4 separate regions of the Homo sapiens genome follow, and regions 2, 3 and 4 are each linked to region 1. The links come from fine-mapping of genetic effects on gene expression. A gene starts in region 1. Each other region holds a variant in brackets. All regions are shown on one strand. Distances are between the middles of the regions. Region 1 holds the start of RAMP1 (receptor activity modifying protein 1). Region 2 overlaps RAMP1 (receptor activity modifying protein 1). Region 3 overlaps RAMP1 (receptor activity modifying protein 1). Region 4 overlaps RAMP1 (receptor activity modifying protein 1).

Region 1 (5,148 bases):
TTCTGAGTTCAAGCGATTCTCCTGCCTCAGCCTCCCAAGTAGCCGGGATTATAGGTGCCTGCCACCATGCCTGCCTAATTTTTTTTGTATTTTTAGTAGAGACGGGGTTTCACCATGTTGGCCAGGCTGGTCTTGAATTCCTCACCTCAGGCGATTCACCCACCTCAGCCTCCCAAAGTGCTGGGATTACAGGCGTGAGTCACCATGCCTGGCCGGATTATGAGATTCTTAATAACTACCTAAGACAAATAGCTTGATTGTAAAATTGTCACAGATAAGTTCTTAAACCTGTAAACTAGAGTACTTAAAAAAATTCCACATTGCCATTCTTGGTAGCAAAATCTTCATCACCAAGGAGACCTGGCTAGTGCTACAGCTTGGGAAGGAAACAGCCTGTGCTCAGTAATTCTACTAATTACAGCTGGGCTCCAATGACATTAATTTACTGATAACCTCATAAAGTTTTGTTTGTTCTTCCAAGAGATAACATTAGCCAGGCCACTCAAAATAACGTTAAAATTACAGGACTTTGGACTTTCGGCAGAACATGAATAGTTTTCTCGGTAAACAAGGAAGGTCTTTATATGTGATCGTGACATAGTGTTTTATTTACACAAGCTTTAGAGGGTTCAGCCTCTGGACACTAGTAAAGAACGTTTATTTATTTGGTTATTTATGTAAAAAATATTCCACAACCCAGCTCTCTGCCTTGCTAACAAAGAAATGTTTGTTTCTTAGTAAATGAAAACAGTGAAGGCCATGTCAAGCCAAATGGAGAGAATAAAATTACTGCGAGATTCTGCTTTCCACGTAACTTCAGCCAAAACTCTAAAGTGGCAAGATCCGCTTTCAGATTATATTATATCGGCCTCTGAGGATTCTATGCAGATCTGCCACCCCTTGGAGAGGTTTACAAATAGGGAACAGAAATCCATGGCTCCCAAGAAGCCCTGGCCCCTCTCCTCGCTGGGCCACGAACCACTCCCCCAGCTACAACAGCGCCGGTGGTCCCTGCTTGCCCAGTGCCAGCGCCAAAGAGGTCTTGTGCGGCAGGTGCCTCTGACCAACATCACTGTTTCCGGGGAAAGGCCACACATACCAGAAACAACTGCTCCGGCCTTCCCAGGGACACTGGGTTCTCCCACGCCAGTAACCTATTCACAGTTTCCGTTAAAAGGTAGCTAAATACACGGAATAATGCAATAGCCAAAGCGGTTTAGAAGGGGCTTGAGTTAGCATTTTAGGAACACATTACAGACAAGGGAAGTGAACAGCACCGTTTCTTGCCGAGTGTGTGGCCAGTTCCTGTGGCCATGAGGCTGCCGCTAATCTCCACTTCTCCCTCCAAGTGGAAAGCCAAACGTGTTCCACCACTTCACCAAGGGACCCGTCCTTCTTTAAATTTCTATTAGCCAAAAGTGCCAAGTTAACAAGCAAACCAAAAGAAAAAAGAAAAAAAGCGATGGAAGTGTCCCGAAAAGGGCTGGCCTCATTTCTGCAAAAGACGTGATTTGCAAACAAGCAACTGCTGCAGGCGACAGATTGTCAGTGTTGACTAATTTCCATACAAACCGGCTGTGGTTCTGATTCCCGAACACTGCGTCTTCTGCAAGGTGCCCGTCTGCAGGTTTTGCAACGCGGGACGGCCTAGGGAAGGGAGCCTGCGCTGGCAGTCACCGCGGCGCACAGCCTGAGAAACGAGGTGCGGGGCTGGGGAACCCCGCGTCCTGTTTTTCCTTCTGAAAACTAGTTCTCCAGTGTGCAGGGCTGACTCACCCCACGCTTTCCAGAATGCCCGCTCTCCGACGTCCCCAAAGCCGTCCCTTCCCCGGCGAGAAGCGCAACACCGGTCCGCGCCCTCCGCCTCCCCTGTGCCCTGGGGCCTCCCGCCTGGAACCGGGGCGGCCCGCGTTCAAGGGCAGCGGATCTGTGCGCCCGCGGCGCCCGCCCCCACCCGCTCCCACCCGCTCCCACCCGCTCCCCTCCTCTCCCCTAGAGGACACCGGCTGGCCAGGGGAAGGGAGCTCGGCCGGGACCCCTGGACCTACTCACCCAGGAGCAGCCAGAGGCCGCGCCGCGGGAGGCGGCACAGGGCCCGGGCCATGGTGCACAGCGGTGCCGAGTCGAGTCCGCTCGCCACGCGCCCCGCTGAGGACTGAGCCCGCCGCGGCGCGGGCCCGGAGGAGACGCGCCGGGGGCGGGAGCGGGCGCGGGAGCGGTGGGAGGCGGCGGCCGCGCGGCCCGGCCCACTGCGGCTCCCCGCGTGGGTGCCAGGGCCGGGGGCGCCCAGGGCCGGTAAAACTTTGCAGGGGGGCCGCGCGGGCGTCTCCAGGCCCCTCCCGGGGGGCGGCACACTTGGGGTCCCAGGAAGGCCTCCTGAAATGTTCTCCGAGCAAATAAACACTTTTTAAACTAGGGAGGGTCTCCTAGACGACTCAGCGTGAGGGGCACCTTGGTCTCCACCTGGGGATCTTCCCCTCCTCCTCCTCCGAGGTTCTGGGCGTTCCTGCCTGGTGTTTGCCTTGCAAAAGGCTAAGATCTCCCAGCCTTATCTACCTCTCCGCCCAGGTGCAGGCGCTGGGGAGCGTGGGGGGCAAAACTCGCCACCGCGCCTGGCGAGACCCGTAGTAACCCAAAATGGCGCACACTTACCAGGCCCTGGAATGCTGCTCCAGATCTGCAGGATGAGTGGGTGGGCAGAGGCGGGGACAGCACGGCAGGTGAACAGAAGCCGTGGGGCTGGAGGAACAGGGCTCTTTGGGGGGATTGAGATGGCCTGGGAGTCTTGCTGTTGATGGGTAGGTAGCGAGAGCCTGGCAGGAGGTTGTGAGGGCCTGGCCACAGAGTCTTGAGATGAGGTTTGCTTTGGTGGCACTCTGGCAGCTGCATGGAAAACTGATGGGGGATCTTGGGTACATTCGTTTATGTAAAGTGGTGAGAGGAGGGCGCTCTGGAGATGGGCCGGGGAAGCCTGCGGAGGAGCAGGTTTTGGGAGGCACAGGCCTGGCCTCTCGGCATTACTGGTGGCTGGATTTCACTTGCAGTGGTTCCTTCTTGTATTATCCTGTTCCGAGAACTCTTAGCAACAGTAAATTTATACTTGTGCTAAGGAATGCACCACTGCCCTTGGAGGGGGAAGAATCACCACCCTGGTGCTGCGGCCACAGCTGTCTCTTTTGTGGTGGAAGCTGCAAGCGCACAGCATTGCTGAGTGACCATCGTTTTCTCCTAGGAAAGGGAACAGTCTGTGGCTGAGAGGCTGCTGCCACCTGCAGTAAGCTCAGAGAAGGGGAGACAGCTGACAGCGAGGTCATCCACTGGTTCTTCTAACACAGGCTGGGAGGGCACTCAGGGCCAGCATGCCTACCACCTGTGCAGGGGCCCCAAGTGTTCTGAGAGTGAGGGGTGAGATGGTGGGGGAGGGCACACATTCTCTTGACTTGATTAGCCCTTGTTCTTGAACCCTAGGAGATACACCCCATTGGGTGGCCTGGCATCCCTACTTTCTTCATTTAACAGACATTTGTGTCCCTATGTGCAAGACACTGTTAGATCGACAAGCCCTGCCCTTCAATTGGTGAATCTAGGGGGTGACCTCTAAGACTCTCAATAACATGAGCGCCACAATACAGGAGCCACCCGGAACAAGGGACACTCGCCTCAGCTGCAGTGCAAGTAAGGAGACAAAGGATTCTGGACAAAATGCAGCCCAGGCAGTCCTGAGGGCTGGGTGGAGAGAAGGGCACAAGGGAAATGCAGGCCCGAGCACAGGCCTGGCAGCCAGAGGCCGTGCCATGTGAGAGCAGCACAGCTAGTGGGGAAGGGTGGCTGCCAGCACAGCCCTGGGACAGGGCCACCGTACATCCTGCACTAGGCGATGGCCAGTCATAGTGGGGGAGAAGAACCTGCATCTTTCTGCAGCCATCACTCGCCCTCCATATCCAGGGACTCTGGCTTGAGCCACCCTTTCTACTTGTAGCTTGTGGACTTTGGCTGCATGTTTTTGGTTGGCAACTGGGACTCCTCTTTCATCAGGCTCAGCAGGAGTCTTTCTTCCCAACGTTTTCTCTTTGAAGCTTGACTGCAAGGAGGCAAGGCCAGAGGCCCCTGTCACTGCTGTTTTCTCAACACCCCCTAAAGGATACATTTTCCTAAGAAGACAAAGCCTATTTCTCAAGTTCACATGCTTTAGAAATTCACAGTTCTCTGGAGAATGCTGAAGTAAGGCACACACCTAGAGGCATGTTCTCTCCTAATGATTTTCCTGTCTGTACCTTGGGTCTAAGTAAGACATTCCTTAGCAACTACTATGGGCTTCCCGTCTTCAAAAGTTGTAGTCTGATGTATCTGTATTTCTAATTGGTCATAGGTAGCATGGAAAATCATTCCTCTCCCAGGGTACCTCAATCTAGAGGGGCATTAGGTTAAACAATAGAAGAGATTAGAAAATGGCCAAGTGCTTTACTGCATACACAGTAGGGCTAAAGATACAATCAAAGCCTGGTCAACACTGCTAAAAATTCACTATTAACATAAGATTCCTGCTTCCAGCCGAGATGAAGTTACAGGGACTGGACTCACCTTCCCATCTTAAACTAAAAAACTGGACAAAATGTATGAAACAACAGTTGTCACAGTGGACCACAAGAAGTGCAGGGACCCCTGAGAGCAGGGAAACAAATAAGGTGAGTGCTACAACTGCTCACTGCCTGGAGTTTGCAGACCACAGATGGAGAAAGGAAACCCAAAGAGAGTCTGGGGAAGCCAGGCAGTTAACGCTGGCAGGGCATAGTACCAGAGAGGAAAGAGCTGCGCAAAGAATGCGCTTGCGAGATCACAGAGGGTCCCACTTGAGTCTCAGCCCACACATCTAAGGACACTACCCAAGGGAAAAGAGCCTAAGAGCCCACACCCAGCTGGGAATAGTTCCAGTTCCCACCAACCATAGTGGAAAAATCTTGAAATACACAGAACATCAGAGCATAATTAGAAGGGCAAGTCCCTCTCTGTAGTCAGTAAAAATTACAAAGGCTATTCTGGTGCTGCCTAACAAAACTTAAAAGCAAGAACTAACAGGAGCAAATGATTTCCAAGTAGCTATTACATCCCGTAACTTAAAAACAATAAAAGAACAAAGCATCAGAGAGC
Region 2 (5,148 bases), 27 kb before region 1:
CCTGTAGTTCCAGCTACTCAGGAGGCTGAGGTAGGAGAATCACTTGAACCCGGGAGGCAGGGGTTGCAGTGAGCCAAGATTGTGCCGCTGCACTCCAGCCTGGGCAAGAGAGGGAGACTCCGTCTCAAAACAAACAAACAAAAAAAAGAATTTGTAAAAGAAGATTAAAAATACCTCCAATGGGCATATGGGAAATCTCTGTACCTTCCTCTCAATTTTGCTGTGAACCTAAAACTGCTCTAAAAAATAAAGTCTTAAAAAAAGGAAAAAAGGGCAATGACTCACAGGACAAATAGGAAAGGTCATGGTGACGTAACTTGCACTTGAGAAAAAACAAATTCCAAATAACTGTCAGAGACCAGTTCAACTTTCCTAATTGCCAAAGACATGCAAACTAAAACTACAGAGGAAATCTCCTTTGACCTGCAAAAATAAAATCCCTACAAACTCAATACTCACGAGCCTATGAGGAACTAGGCATTTTCATATGTTGCTGATAGAATTATAAATTAGTAAAATTCTTTAGAGGAACAACTGGCAAAAATCTATCAAGAACCACAGAATGGGCCGGGCGTGGTGGCTCACGCCTGTAATTCCAGCACTTTGAGAGGCGGAGGTGGATCACCTGAGATCAGGAGTTTGAGACCAGCCTGGCCAACATAGTGAAACCCTGTCTCTACTAAAAATACAAAAAATTAGCTAGGCATGGTGGCAGGCACCTGTAATCCCAGCTACTCGGGAGGCTGAGGCAGGAGAATCGCTTGAACCCAGAAGCCAGAAGTTGCAGTGAGCCGAGATTGTGCCACTGCACTCCAGCCTGGGCGACACAGCAGGATTCTGTCTCAAAAAAAAACCCCCCAGAACCACAGAATGTTCATGGTACATGCTACAGTAAGCCTACTTGCATGAATTATTTCTCCCAGGAATGTCTAACAACAAAATCTTTTTTAAAAAAACAAAGGATATATGTACACAAGTTCTTATAGTGTTGTCATTTATTTCAGACAAGGTCTCACTTTGTCACCTGGGCTGGAATGGAGTGGCACAACCTCAACCTCCTGGGCCGAGGCGATCCTCCCACTTCAGCCTCCCTAGGACTACAGGTGCGCCCATTACACTCAGCTAATGTTTACATTTTTTGTAGATACCTGGTTTCGCCATGTTGCCCAGGCTGGTCTCGAACTCCTGGGCTCAAGTGATCCACATGCCTTGGTCTCCCAAAGTGCTGGGATTGCAGGTGTGAGCCACTGTGCCCAGCTCCATCATTTATAATAGCAAAAACCAGGAAATGGCTTTAACTCGAGCAGGAGTAGGGAACCACAGCGTGCCAGTGTGGCCTGCCCTAGAGTGAGGCGGCCTCCACTGCCTGGGCAGTGAGGGTAAACTCAGTCTCTTTTTCAGAAAGTGCATTCTCCATTTTTTGATTGAGACAAGAAGCTGAAACAAGAGTGGACTCAGACCCAAGGCCTGTCCCAAGACGCATCCCAAAGGGCACCCTGTGCTTAGGTCCCGCAAGATACTCGGTGTCCTCGAACTATGCACAGGGAAGGCTGTGAGGTGCCACTGCTCCCTGGAGGCCCTCCCACAGGGGACTGAGAATGCTGCTGGCCCTGCCTGTGCCTGGGAGATGTCTACCATCTGAGTGATGAATGGATAGATCCTGGGAGATGCCATGGCCCAGCCTGGGGGCTGGAGTGAAGGTCAGCATTAGGAGGGGACATCTGCTCTGTCCTCTACCCACTGCCCTCCCCACACAGGACCCACAGCCAGAGGTGTCACACACAAGGGCACATCTTCATCCTCTCTCCCCCACCCCACCCCCACCCCTTCCCCATGGGCAGCCCAGGAGGCCGCCTTCGGGGCTCAGTGAAGCCCTGTGTGCACAAACTGGCCTGTGTCCCAGGACAGCCAAGTCCCGTCTGCACAGCCTGGATGGTTCTAGGGCTTTCTGGGGGTGTGGCTGCTGTAGTCGAGTGTCCACAGGGGAGGCGGGGGTGGATGCTGAGCTACGACGAGCCCCCGCCACCAGACGTGTTCCACCTGCCCACCCTTTCACTCACTGCCGGGATCTGGTTAGCGTCACCGCATGTCTGACCTTTCGCGTTGACGCACAGGCCTGATTTCATCCCCATACTCAGGAGGATGTGAAACCAGGCAGTTAATCACCTGATGGGAAAGACGCCATGGTGGGCTCAGTGCCACGCTCCGCGCTAAGTCACCACAGGGTCTGGGGAAGGTCTCTCCATCTGTGCCTTCCCCCAGGGCCAGAAGACTTCCGAAAAAGATGTGCTGAGGATGACAAGGTGGTCCCTGGGTGTGGAGGGGTGAGGCCAGCAGTCGCCCGCTCCAGCCCCAGCCTCCAAGCTCCCCCAACACGAGGGCTCCTCTCTGTGGGTCCTCACAGATGCATTTCTCCTGGAGCTTTCTGAGAAGGGAAATGGGGCTCCTCCTCCCCATTCCAGAGCCCCCCAGCCCAGCAGGCAGGTGTCATCAGATCCTCTGGGGATCCTCATCAGAACCCACCATGGCGCGCACGTTAAGTGAGGCAACCCCTGACCTGAACACATTCCAGGGGCGGCTGCCAAGGACTCTGA[G/C]CCCTGGTTTATTTCTCCAGTGCTGAAAACCAGCAGAAGGCGCTCCCTGCACAACCACGGTCACGCGCGCCAAGGAGACTACAGGAAGGTGGAACGACACCCCCGTGGGGCGGCCTGGGCAGGGCCGGCATATCCCCAGCCACTGCCCCACTCTGCCCAGCCCTGGACAGCTGTGTCTACAGCTCGTCCCCATGGGGACCCGGCACCCCGGCTGATGCCTGCGCAGGCCACAGGAGTGGCGTCCTCAGGGGAGCCAGACTGGTGTCACTGCGCGAGCTGCATGTCTTTCCTGGCACAGCCACCTCCTTCTCTCCTCCTCTGCCCCCTTCTCCTCTGTAAGCCATAGCCTGGAGTCTTCGAGGACCCGGCTCCCAGGGGCTCTTCCTGCTCCTCTGCCTCCCGCGGGGCTGGCCATTAGTGCTGAAGGCCCCAGGAGGTCAGGGGTCAGCAGCCGGGTTTCCGTGCCCCTGGGGTGTGCTCTGGAGATGCCTGGAAAGATTCTCCCACCCAGGGGGGGCAGAGGGTGGGGGAACAGACATCTAGCCAGGGCTTTCCTCACAAGAACTGGCTTCACGCCTGGTGCAGACACACAGAGAGGGGCACGGCAGGAGCGATGGTGTGGCGGTGGGCAGGGAGGTCAGTAGGCAGGGAGGGCGGCCTCGGCCTGGGCAATGCTCGCCTTTGGATCCTCTGAGACCTGGCTGTGCTGGGCACTGCCATCTGTCCTGTCCACGCCTGAGGGCCTTTCCGTGGAGCCCACGCTATTCCACCAGCACACACAGGGATGACAGCACCACAGCCACCAGGGAGAGCACAGAGGGGTCCCAGTGCTCGTGGGCATGTGGCAAGTTCCAGGGCGGACACCGCCATGAACAAACCCACGAGGGCACCGAGGCAGCCCCAGATGCTGTACTGGGAGCTCCTGATGCTCACGACAGGCCTCAGGGAGGTGGGTGGGCTCCAGGGCCAGGCCTCCGGGCAGGGGCAGGCGGCGGGCAGGGCTCTGTGAACAGCCCATCCCGAGACCTCGTGGGGGTCGAGCTCAGCAGAAATCCAGGAGGACACCCTGCCCTTGGCCCAGACAGCCCTCGTGATTTCAGAAGAAGCCTCCCTCTCAGTTCCTGCTGAAATTCAAAATACAAGCAGCTGTTCCCATGTTGCTGCTGAGTTCTGAAGAATTTCCTGACTTGACTCTTTTAGCAGGAGACACAAAGAAGGCAGCAGGAGGGAAATGCAGCAGGCTGGGAAGGACCCCAAAGTGTTGGTGCACCCTGCCCAACGTCGTGTGGACCCAGAGCGTCATGCCTGGCGCTGGCCATGCTGAGCCGCCGTACCACAGCAGGCACTGCAGACATTTGTCTTGCGTCCCCCAACTACCACGCTGGGCTGCAGCCCCACTCCCTGGGGCCTGGAGCCCCGTCCTCTGAGCAGCTCCTTGGGCTGGGGGAGGGCCCATGATTGCCCAGCATGGGGTCGGCAGGGCAGGGCAGGGTCCGCAGTGACAGCCTCGGGTAACCAAAGCTGAGGTGACCTGAGGCTACCATGGTCAGTATTTACAAACCTGGAAGCTTTAGGGCAGAGGGACGGAGGCATCCCAGCTGGTATGGAAGTGAAGTCTGGTTCTCTGGGGCCCAGTGACCTCAGATGCTGGGAAGGCTGTGGCCCCATCCTCTGGCATCTTCCCCGAGGACACCTTTCCCCTGCCCAAGATGGCACTCAGACCCTGAAGCCATACAGGGTGGGGTGGAATAGGCGTGTCCCCTTCCCTCTTAAATCAACCGAGCATTTCTTATTTAGGTGAGGAAATCTGACGTGAGGCTTTTAAAAACCCATGTTTTATAGCCGAGTCCAGCACGTTCCAGATTCTTCTCTTCTCTGTTCTGCCTTCTCTCTCCCTCCCCTACACCCATAGGAAGGTCTCTGGAAATGAGAGTTCCCGATGACACATTTGCCAGGTTTTCTATACCTCCTCAAATTAGATTGTAGCTCCAGTTAATACATTAAATCACATTATGCCTCCATCAGCAAACCAAGGCTGCAGCTTAATGAGATGATAACCCCTGGTAAATGACGGCCCAGCCAGCTTGCAGGGGAGCCTGGCCCCGCTGAGCTCATTCAGCCACTTTTCAGGGACCTGTTCCATGTAGCTGAGTGGAAGACACCCAACACGTGTTAGAAAGGGCTCAGGAATCACCCCCAAGCCTTGCTCACAACAGACAACCTGACAAAATCCACCAACCAGGTAACAAAGCAACAGGATGAGCGGAGGAGTGGGGTCACGGTCAGGGCAAGGGCTGTCGGAACCCAGCAAGCACCTGCGTGCAGATCCATGCCGGGCAGCCAAGGTCCCAGGGCAAGCGCAGTGGCTACAAACCCTGAATGCGCAAAAAAAAAAAAAAAAAAAAAAAAGTGGACCTACAGGCCAGGGCAGGGACCCAGGAATGACCCCTGTGCAGAGGAGGAGCCTCTTTTTTTTTTTTCTTTTCTTTTCTTTTTTTTTTTTTTGAGGTAGGGTCTGGTTCTATCACCCAGGCTGGAGTGCAAGTGGTACCAT
Region 3 (5,148 bases), 39 kb before region 1:
GGGTGTGGGCTTCCCAGCAGACCTGGCCCAGGCCGGTGAGAAGGGCCATCAGTGGGGCTGATGGGGATGCTCCACCCAGGACAGCTGGCACTGCGCCACAGCGTACAGACAGCCCGCAGCTGCCAGGAACGCAAGACACGTGGGAGACTTAAACACACCTCCCAAGGCTAGGTAGATAAACAGTAGCATAAAGTGATTATGAAAAATAATGTTAATAAACCGATGCAGTGACTGTCTGATAAAGGTTCTATTCTACAGAGACTCAGCCGGCTTTTCAAAGGCCCCTGGGTCTGTGTTAGGCGGCAAAAAGAGACTCATCAAATCCCCAGAGTATAAATCATAAGTCAATATTCTCAGGCTACAATACTGAAAACTAAAAATTAGTTTTAAAAAAAGGATAAATTTAAAAAAATGGAATTCCTAGAAATGAAAGATCATTTATATAATTTCGAAGTCACAGGAGAATTTAAAAATTCAATTACAAAATATTAAGAGAACAAGATCGGCAATACTATATGTACAAATGAATGGAATGGGGCAAAAGTGAATTCTGAGAAAAATTAATAGTTATAAATTATTTTATTAAACAAAAATAAATGAAAATAAACAAAATAAGTATCCAAAGCAAGATATTTTTTAAAAAGAACAAAATAAATCTCTCCAAATGGCACATAATTTGTCCATCAATAATTATTAGAAGCAATATAGGCCAGGTGCGGTGGCTCACGCCTGTAATACCACCACTTTGGGAGGCCGAGGTGGGCAGATCACTTGAGCTCAGGAGTTCAAGACCAGCCGGGGCAGCATGGCGAAACCCCATCTCTGCTGAAAATATCAAAATTAGCCAGGCATGGTGGCACACACCTGTAGTCCCAGTTAACTTGAGTGGCTGAGGCACGAGAATGCCGTGAACCCAGGAGGCAGAGGTTGCAGTGAGTCGAGATCGTGCCACTGCACTCCAGCCTGGGCGACAGAGCCAGACACTGTCCTAAACAAACAAACAAATAAACAAAAAACAAAAAACAGAAAAGAAAAAGAAGAAGTATAAGAGATTAATACGTAAAAAAGGTTTGTTAAAAATTGGAAAATCCTCAGTGAATTGGGATACTTTTTGGTTAAATTATAAACTATCAAATATCGACTTAAAAAGGAGGAATTCCAAGAAGAAAAATGGCAAATGTTATTAAAGAATTGCTGTTTCAAAAGGCACTAGATCCCAGGCAGTTCTTTCAAATTCTTTTTTTTTCTTTTTAATTGAGACAGGTTCTCACTATGTTGCTCAGGCTGGTCTCAAACTCCTGGGCTCAAGCGATCCTCCCACCTCGGCCTTCCAAAGTGCTGGGATTACAGGTGTGGGAGGCGTGAGCCACTGCAAATTCTTAAAGTGAAAGAAAAAGATGTGCAGCTTCCCAGTTCATTTAAAAAAGTTAACAAACCCTGATCCCAAGCCTCTTGAGATGGCATGACATGCGTCTCAACGCATGCGCACACGGACGGAACAGATGCCCTTCGCTTCCACCTATAAATAGACACTCAAGTCCCCTACCCAATGCTAACAAACTTCATCTAGCCACATAGCATATTTTATTTAAAGGAGGGCTAATTTCAGGAATGCTTTAAACCTGTTACTACAAAATCACACTTTAATACACCATGGGAAAAAAATGTACCGTCATTTTAATACGCATTGAGAAGGCATTTGAGAAAACTCAATATTCTTTTCTGATTTTAAAAAAGCCACAACCTTGAAAACACAGAAAGAAGCTATTTTCTTCATGTGATAAAAATCTCTCTCTCGGCCAGGTGCAGTGGCTCACGCCTGTAATCTCAGCACTTTGGGAGGCCGAGGCGGGCGGGTCACCTGAGGTCAGGAGTTCGCGACCAGCCTGGGCAACACGGTGAAACCCCATCTCTACTAAAATACAAAAAATTAGCTGGGTGTGGCAGCGTGTGCCTGTAGTCCCAGCTACTCAGGAGGCTGAGGCAGGAGAATTGCTTGAACCCGGGAGGCGGAGGTTGCAGCGAGCGGAGATCATGCCACTGCACTCCAGCATGGGTGACAGAGTGTGACCCAGTCTCAAAGAAAAAAAAAAAATCACTGTCTCAAACCAATAGCATGCACCCCATTTAGGACTGGAACACAGTGGCATTTTCGTGGCAGCCAGCAACAGGCTTATTTCGCATTTAGGCAGCCAGGGCTGGCTTCTCCCTTGTGGTTTCTGCCTTTGGTGTCAGGGCTCACACCCAGGATTCTGTGAATAGCGGGACCTTTCCAAAGCAGGGAGGGGCTGGCCACTTACTGCGCCACTTCCTCTGTTGACAGAGAGCCACGCTGTGGCCTGGCCTGGCGTGCGTCAGGT[G/A]TGGAGCAAGCACAGGGCCAGCTTGTCTTTAAGAGGCCTCAGCCCGGGCCCTGGGGATGTGAAAGCCCACGCAGTGTAGCTTCCCACCTACGTCTGCGTGTGTGAGCTCGGGAGCCTGGCTTCCTGTCTCACTTCTGCCCAGCACTGCTGGAGGCAGCAGAGAACTGGGCACCTTTTGTTTTTCTTGACACTGGGGAAATGTATAAGGAAGTCTTGTTAACTGTTTGATGAAAAGCACTTCAGCACACTGTGCTGGCCTGGGAAATGTGTGCTGGGCCAGCAGGCTCTGAGCCAGCTGTGCACACCTGGAACTCCTACGGGTGAGTGGCTGCTCCCATCCCCCTGGGACTGGCAGCACGCGTGAGGGAAAGACGGATATTGTACTATCAAACCCTTCCTAAATCAGGCTGGTCAGAGAGTACAATCAAACTAGGGAAAAGGCCAAGCATTAGAAGTCCTATGTACCTGTGCCAGCCCAGGGATGCCTACACATTTGACCTACTGCATTGCTGAGACAGGAATGCTTTGAAATAAGTGTCATCACTGCATGCAAATGAATATGTTAAACAGGAATTTTCCCCAGGCTCTGACTATGGTTTATCTATTTAAGTTGTATTAACAGGGACTTCTGACATCTTAGCAAAGCCATTTTCCCAACAGCATAAGGGGAAATGCCAACTCCATCCCTTTCCAAAGAATTACAGCATCTGGCCAGGCACAGTGGTTCCCGCCTGCAATCCCAGCACTGTGGGAGGCTGAGGAGGGTGGATCACCTGAGGTCAGGAGTTTGAGACCAGCCTGGCCAACATGGTGAAACCCAGTCTCTACTAAAAATACAAAAATTAGCTGGGCGTGGTGGTGCACGCCTGTGGTCCCATCTACTCAGGAGGCTGAGGCAGGAGAATGGCTTGAACTCGGGAGGTGGAGGTTGCAGTGAGCTGAGGTTGCACCACTGCACTCCAGCCTGGGAGAAAGAGCGAGACCCCATCTCAAAAAACAAACAAACAAACAAAAAACAAAACCCCCCCCCAAAAAACCAAAACAAACAAAAAAAGAAGAATGACAGCATCCACGAGAGCATGTGTTTCTGAGGTTTCCACTAAGACACGTGGATCTGTAAACAAGAAGCCTCACCATAGGCTTCTTGCAAATACTTCGCCAAATCATGGAAGCCAATTCCATTCCACACCTTTGTTACCAGCTAAATATTGCACTTTACCACTGACTAGGTGCTTGCTGAACAAGGAGGACAAAGGCCTCTCTCTTGCAGGAAAAGGAACAACATGAATAACGCACCAAAGAAAGAATCTTGGGAGGGTTCAAGGAAACAGGAGGAAGACAGATGAAACGGGGCTCAGTGTTCTCGCTGCTGTGGAGGAGGCCACAATTCCTCCTGCAACACTCGCAGTGACTGTAGAGCATGCTGATGAAGCCGGAGAAAATGGCCAGCCCTCTCTGCACGTTGAGCAGGGAAGGCAGACACGGGACCACCTGTGGCCTTATTCTCACCTCCCCTCGCTCATGGCCTGTCTGGGCCTCAGGCTCTGTCCTGTCCCATGTCATCTGCTCTTTCAGTCTCCCTCTTTCCTGGCCTGAAGTGAAGCTGGTTCTCCCATTCCTGGGATGGAGGCTGAGGCCCAGGCGGGGCCCGTGGTTGCATGCGGGGCTCTGGGGTCCACCTGGACGGATGCACACCTCATGATAGCTGAGTGCCACACGGGAGCATCCGGTGAGCTGCAGGCATGTAAAAGAGGGACCCACTGAGGCTGGGGCAGGTGACCCCACCATCCCCACGGACAGCACATCACACCCCCAGGACATTTAAAGGCCTGGCCCCTCTGCTGTCCAAAAGTCTAAGAGGCTGGGTGCAGTGGCTCACGCCTGCAACCCCAGCACTTTGAGAGGCCAAAACAGGAGGATCGCTTGAGCCCAGGAGTTCCAGACCAGTCTGGGCAACACAGAGAGACTCCCCCATCTCTACACAAAGTTTAAAAGTTAGCCAGGAGTGGTGGTGTGTGCCTATAGTCCTGGCTACTTGGGAGGCTGAGTCAAGAGGGTTGCTTGAGTCCAGGAAGTCAAGTCTGCAGTGAGCTAAGATCATGCAACTGCATTCCAATCTAGGCGGCAGAGTGAGACCCTGCCTTAAAACAAAACAAAACAAAGTCTAAGAAAATACTAAGACCTGTTTCCCCGCGTGAGTGTGCTTCTCACATCACCCGAGGGCAGGTGTTCTTACCCCCTCCTTACAGAAAAGGGCGCTTGCTGAGGTGATGGGGAGGTCCCTGAGGCGGCAGTGCAGACTGGGGAACGGTCCAGGGGTCTGCCTGGGGGCTGCTTGGCCCTCCCTGGGCCTGGCTTCCTCTGCCTCCCTCCCCTTCTCCTGCTATGGTGGCCCCAGGCCGGGGAGGAATCTGGGCGCCTCTGCCCATGCTGGGAGAAGCGAGAGGTTTCTAAATCCATCCCTGGCTCCATGTGCAGCCAGGTCTGGCACCAGACACAGCCTGGGAGCTGCCAAGTCAGGCTCCCCACAGAGCAGCCACAGCAGGCGGGCGGACGGGCATAATACCTCCTCTGAGAACAGGCCTGGGCAGCGCCCTGGCTCCTGGGGCTGCCAAATGAAGTGCAGTTTTAAAATGCAGTGGGTGTCCCAGGCAAAGTCACAGACTGTCCTATGCTGGCTGCATCTGGGCCTGAGCAGGGGTTGCATTGCGTCCCAGGGTCCGAGGATCAGGGAATGCTGGGAGATCGCTGAGCTGTGCCCATTGTGGGCCGGGTGCTGAGGGCTCAC
Region 4 (5,148 bases), 46 kb before region 1:
CCACCCCAAGCCTTGAACATAACCTTGGTAGAATAACAAGCAGCAGCTGTCTACTGCCGAGAGAAAGTGGGGTAAGATCCATGCTGCAGCACAGGCAGGCAAGAGAAAGCTGAAAGCAGAGGGTGGGGCACCACACTGAGGAATCTCCTCCAGTGCCCTAGTCCCAACCCTGGGCACAAGGCAATGACAGCTCATTGCTAGAGGTACTTGAGGCCTATGGTACATTGAAGATAACCATAACAATGACAAATCCCAAACCCAGCTCAATTCCTAACAAGATTGACTCAAATCCCACACTAACGGTCTGACAGAAGAGGATTACCCATTTCCATATGTAAATACTATTGACCGTAGTCACCTCTGTTCTATACATGAATGTTCAGTATTCAATAAAAATTATATATTTTTTGTTCAGAAGCAACAAAAAACAACCAACCCATTGTCAAGAGGCAAAACAATGAATGGAGTTAGACTCAGAGACGACCTAGATGTTGTAACTATCAGACAGTTATGTTAGAATGGCTAGTATGACAACGGGTCTAGTGGAAATGGCAGACAATATGCATGAACAGATGGAGAATTTAAGCAGAGAAGTGAAAACTCAAAGTCAAAGACAGTTGCTAGAAATAAAAAGATATGGCATCAGAGAGAATTCCTTCAATGGGCCCATCAGCAGACACGAAAACTGAGGAAAGAGAGAAATTGAAGATGTCAGTAGAAATTAACCAAACTGGAACACAAAGAGAAAAAAAAGTGAGGGAAAACCAGAGCATCCAAGAACTGTGTAACATGACAATCCTATAAATGACATCAACCTCAACTCATAATGTGAGAGTCCCAGAAAGAGGAGAGGGAATGGAGCAGAAGAAATATTTGAAGAGATAATGGCTCAGGCTTTTAAAAAAATAATGAAAGACATAAAATCGCAGATCCAAGAAGCTTGGAGAACCTCAAGCAGGACAGAAAACAAAGCAGCTACAACAGCAAACAACCAAATAGACACATCAAACTCCAACTGCTGAGCACCAAAGAAAAAGGAAAAAATCTTGAGGTCAGAGGAAAAAAGACATACAGAAGAACAGTGAGTTACAGCAGATTTCTTAATTTCTTATCAGAGGCTTGTCATGTGGGAAGACAATGGGCAACATCTTGAAAGTATTAGAGGTTGCGGGGAGGGGAAACACATTTGTCAGCCTGGAATTCTATACCTAGAAAAAAATACCTTTTGAAAATGAGGTTGAGGCTGGGCACATTGGCTCACACCTGTGATTCCAGCACTTTGGGAGGCCAAGGCAGGCGGATCACTTGAGGTCAGGAGTTCGAGACCAGCCTGGCTAACATGGTGAAACCTCATCTCTACTAAAAATACAAAAATTAGCTGGGCATGGTGGCAGATGCCTGTAATCCCAGCTACTCGGGAGGCTGAGGCAGGAGAATTACTTGAACCTGGGAGGCGGAGGTTGCAGTGAGTTGAGATCACGCCATTGCACTCCAGCCTGGGTGACAGAGCAAGACTGTCTTTAAAAAAAAAAAAAAAAAAAAAAAAGAGGTTGATATAAGAACCTTTTGAGAAAAAAGCAGCTGAGAGAATTCATTGCCAGCAGACCTGTGCTACAAGAAATGTCAAAGAAAGTTCTTCAGTGATAAGAAAGAGTTTGAGATCCACATAAATAGATGAAGGGCTCCAAAAACAGTGAAAATGAAGACAATAGAAGGGTACTTTTCCTTATATTTAATCTAGAAAGTGAGTAAATGGATCAGAGGCCATAAATTAAATGTGAGGAGACCCCTGGGGGCTTTAAGAGGCTATACAGAAAAAGTAGGGGCCTCTCCGGCATCCCAGCACCCCTCTACCCCCGCCCCTATCGTACGGTCACTGTTTTTCCTTCCTGGCTGCCCTCTAGGTCACTGCCCTGAGTGTGCAGGGCCTCCCTTAGCCCATCCAAGAGGCCTAGTAGATGAGGCATGAGGAGGGAGAGGCAGCAGAGAGTGTGCCGTGCCTGTAGGCATTGGGGTGTGTGGTCTCTCCAGGTGAACAAGGACTCATGTTTCAAGAAGAAAACAGAAGTGGAAAAAGCCACATGAAGTCGTGACGGTTTGAGTCTCATCGTGGGGGAAAAACGAATGAGTGCACGTTATGTGGCCGGTCCATGGTAAATGTTAGACGTGTTATTGTTGCTGAAAACCAAGTCCAGCCTTCTCAACTACAGGGCTAAACAGTGAGAATGCTGCCTTTTTTTTTTTTTTTTTTTTGAGACAGAGTCTTGCTCTGTTGCCCAGGCTGGAGTGCAGTGGTACAATCTCAGCTCACTGCAACCTCCGCTTCCCAGGTTCAAGCGATTCTCCTGCCTCAGCCTCCTAAGTAGCTGGGACTACAGACATGGTCCACCATGCCTGGCTAATTTTTGTATTTTTAGTAGAGATGGGGTTTCACTATGTTGGCCAGGCTGGTCTCGAACTCCTGACCTCAGGTGATCTACCCTCCTTGGCTTCCCAAAGTGCTGGGATTACAGGCGTGAGCCACTGCATCTGACCAATGAAGCCTGCTTTGAATGATGATCCTCTCCCATATCTCAGACCCACCAAACCCGCAGGCAGTTTAGTTTTTGGTGTTCTGCAGATCCAGTGACACATGATCCTGAACACTGACCCCTGTCCTCTGAGGAGCGGAGCTGTGGCATTTTTAGGAGGAGCTATTGCCATCTCTGCACTGGCCAAACAGAACAGGAAGGAGCGGATGCAGGAAGCCACGCCACCACAGAACCCACGCCGAGGCCACGCTGAGGCAGATAGGGCCGTGTGTGGGTGGGCTATTCTGGGATCAGGCACTCTCTCCTTGATATGTCAGCCTTCTGGATTGCAGTGCCACCCACGTCTAAAAATATCTCTAATGTGCAGTCGGCTGCCCACTTCATCCTGTTTATTTATACAGAAGTGACAGCTGAAACTTTCAATAAA[T/C]GTTGTGAGCTCCGTCAGTGAGGATGTGATAAAAGAATTCCCCTCAGAGTACAGACATTCTTCTGCCCAAAAGAACACAGAACGGACTGAAGGACCCAAAATAGTCATGAAAAATACACCCTGGCTTTAACTCCCTAAAGTTTCAGTTCTCGTGTCACTGAGTAATTATCCTTTTTTGGCTAGGACCTTCTATTCTGGGGCTCGAAGCAAACTTTGCTTGGAATGTTCCTGAATCCTATGGTGGGAGTTTCCAGCATATCTGGGTCCCAAGTCAAGGCCCGACACCACTGTTCATGGTTACTTGCTGGTAAGAAAGTGTGATCACTGATGCTCACAGGTGAGTCATCTACTCTGGGGACACCCTGGGTTGCAGTTGTCCCCCAGCTACCCCCGGCTGGCCCTAATATGAAATATCTGAGCCTGGGCCCTGTCACCCATAGACCTGGGTTCAAATCCCAGCTCCACCTCTTACCCAGAGTGATCCTGGAGACCTCATTCGCTTGTTCAAGTCTTAGTCTCCTATTAAGATAAAGATACAGGTCCTCACTTGACTGGCTCATGACGTATACATTTCTTGTCCTTTTTGAGTTTATACTTAAGCAAAAGGTGACCAGGCAATGTGTGTCTAAATTGTCAGAAAATCTGAGGGGAAAGCACTTTTGGCTTTATATTCGCTTTTTAAAATTTATTTATTATTTTAGACAGCGTTTTGCTCTGTTGCTCGGGCTGGAGTGCAGTGGCACGATCTTGGCTCACTGCAACCTCTGCCTCCCGGGCTCAGGTGATCCTCTTGCCTCACCCTCCAGAATAGCTGGGATTACAGGCGTGCACCACCACACCTGGCTAACTTTCATTTATTTATTTATTTTGATTTTTATTCTATTTTTGAGACAGAGTCTTGCTCTGTTGCCCAGGATGGAGTCCAGTGGCATGATCTCAGCTCACTGCAAGCCCCACTTCCTGGGTTCATGCCATTCTCCTGCCTCAGCCTCCCGAGTAGCTGGGACTACAGGTGCCCGCCACCACGCCCTGGCTATTTTTTTTTTTTGTATTTTTAGTAGAGACGGGGTTTCACCGTGTTAGCCAGGATGGTCTTGATCTCCCGACCTCGTGATCCGCCCGCCTCAGACTCCCAAAGTGCTGGGATTACAGGCGTGAGCCACTGAGCCCGGCCCAATATTTCTTCTAGAAATACAAATGACTACTAAGCATGTGAAATGAAAGACCAAACATCCAGATGGCACTCCTCTTAAAAAGGAGAATGCTAGGCTGGGCGTGGTGGCTCACACGTGTAAACCCAACGCTGGGGGAGGCCTAGGCCGGAGGATTGCTTGAGCCTAGGAGTTTGAGAGCAGCCTGGGAAACATAGTGAGACCTTGTCTCTACAAAAAAATACAAAATGGCTAACACAGTGAAACCCCAACTCTACCAAAAATACAAAAAATTAGCCGGGCGTGGTGGCGGGTGCCTGTAGTCCCAGCTACTCGGGAGGCTAAGGCAGGAGAATGGCGTGGACCTGGGAGGTGGAGGTTGCAGCGAGCGGAGATCGCACCACTGCACTCCAGCCTGGGTGACAGAGCGAGACTCTGTCTTAAAGAAACAACAACAACAAACATTTGCCAGTGCTGGGATGCACCTGTAGTCCCAGCTAGTTGGGAGGCTTAGGTCAGAGGATCACATGAGCCCAGGGAGGTGGGAGATTGAGGCTGCAGTGAGCTATGTTCCTGCCACTGCACTCCAGCCTGGGCAACAGAATAAGACCCTGTCTCAAAAAAAAAGAAAATAATGCTGAATGCTAGTGAAGGTGTAGGATACTGAGGCAGGCACTCATAGCAATCCTCAGGGAAGATAAACTGGTACAATTTTTCTGAAACACAATTTGGCAATATGTATCAATAATCTCAAACTCACGGATGCCTCTTGACCCCGTAATTGCATTACTGGGAATTATCCTAAATTAATAATGTGAAATATAGATAACAGTGATGTAAGAAGGTGTCCACTGCAGATTTATAATTATGAAAAACAGCAAACAACAGGACAGCGGTCACAGAAATTGTTTATGAGTGGCTCCATTATGTAGCTGTTAAAATTATATTTAGGAAGAAAATTTTAAGATGTGGAAAAACATTTATGTTCTAAAGCTGGGCAGAAGAACAGCTCTCATGCCTGTGATCCTAGCACTTTGGG

The links.
Region 2: its variant is fine-mapped to the expression of RAMP1 in esophagus muscle (GTEx, PIP above 0.99).
Region 3: its variant is fine-mapped to the expression of RAMP1 in whole blood (TOPMed, PIP above 0.99).
Region 4: its variant is fine-mapped to the expression of RAMP1 in whole blood (INTERVAL, PIP above 0.99).

Annotation. Positions count from the first base shown.
Region 1 is chr2:237,856,632-237,861,779 of GRCh38, reverse strand. It overlaps RAMP1 (receptor activity modifying protein 1), which reads right to left and starts at 2,157. Exons shown (of 3, transcript NM_005855.4): 1 at 2,053-2,157. The coding sequence starts at 2,104. RefSeq lists enhancers at 2,770-3,556, 3,557-4,345.
Region 2 is chr2:237,883,768-237,888,915 of GRCh38, reverse strand. All of the region lies in intron 2 of RAMP1 (receptor activity modifying protein 1), which reads right to left. Among named protein-coding and RNA genes, the nearest start is that of RAMP1, 27 kb to the right of the region's middle. The variant G/C (reference allele first, on the strand shown) is at 2,595.
Region 3 is chr2:237,896,020-237,901,167 of GRCh38, reverse strand. All of the region lies in intron 2 of RAMP1 (receptor activity modifying protein 1), which reads right to left. Among named protein-coding and RNA genes, the nearest start is that of RAMP1, 39 kb to the right of the region's middle. RefSeq lists enhancers at 2,006-2,115, 2,196-2,245, 2,213-5,148. The variant G/A (reference allele first, on the strand shown) is at 2,361.
Region 4 is chr2:237,903,116-237,908,263 of GRCh38, reverse strand. All of the region lies in intron 2 of RAMP1 (receptor activity modifying protein 1), which reads right to left. Among named protein-coding and RNA genes, the nearest start is that of RAMP1, 46 kb to the right of the region's middle. The variant T/C (reference allele first, on the strand shown) is at 2,959.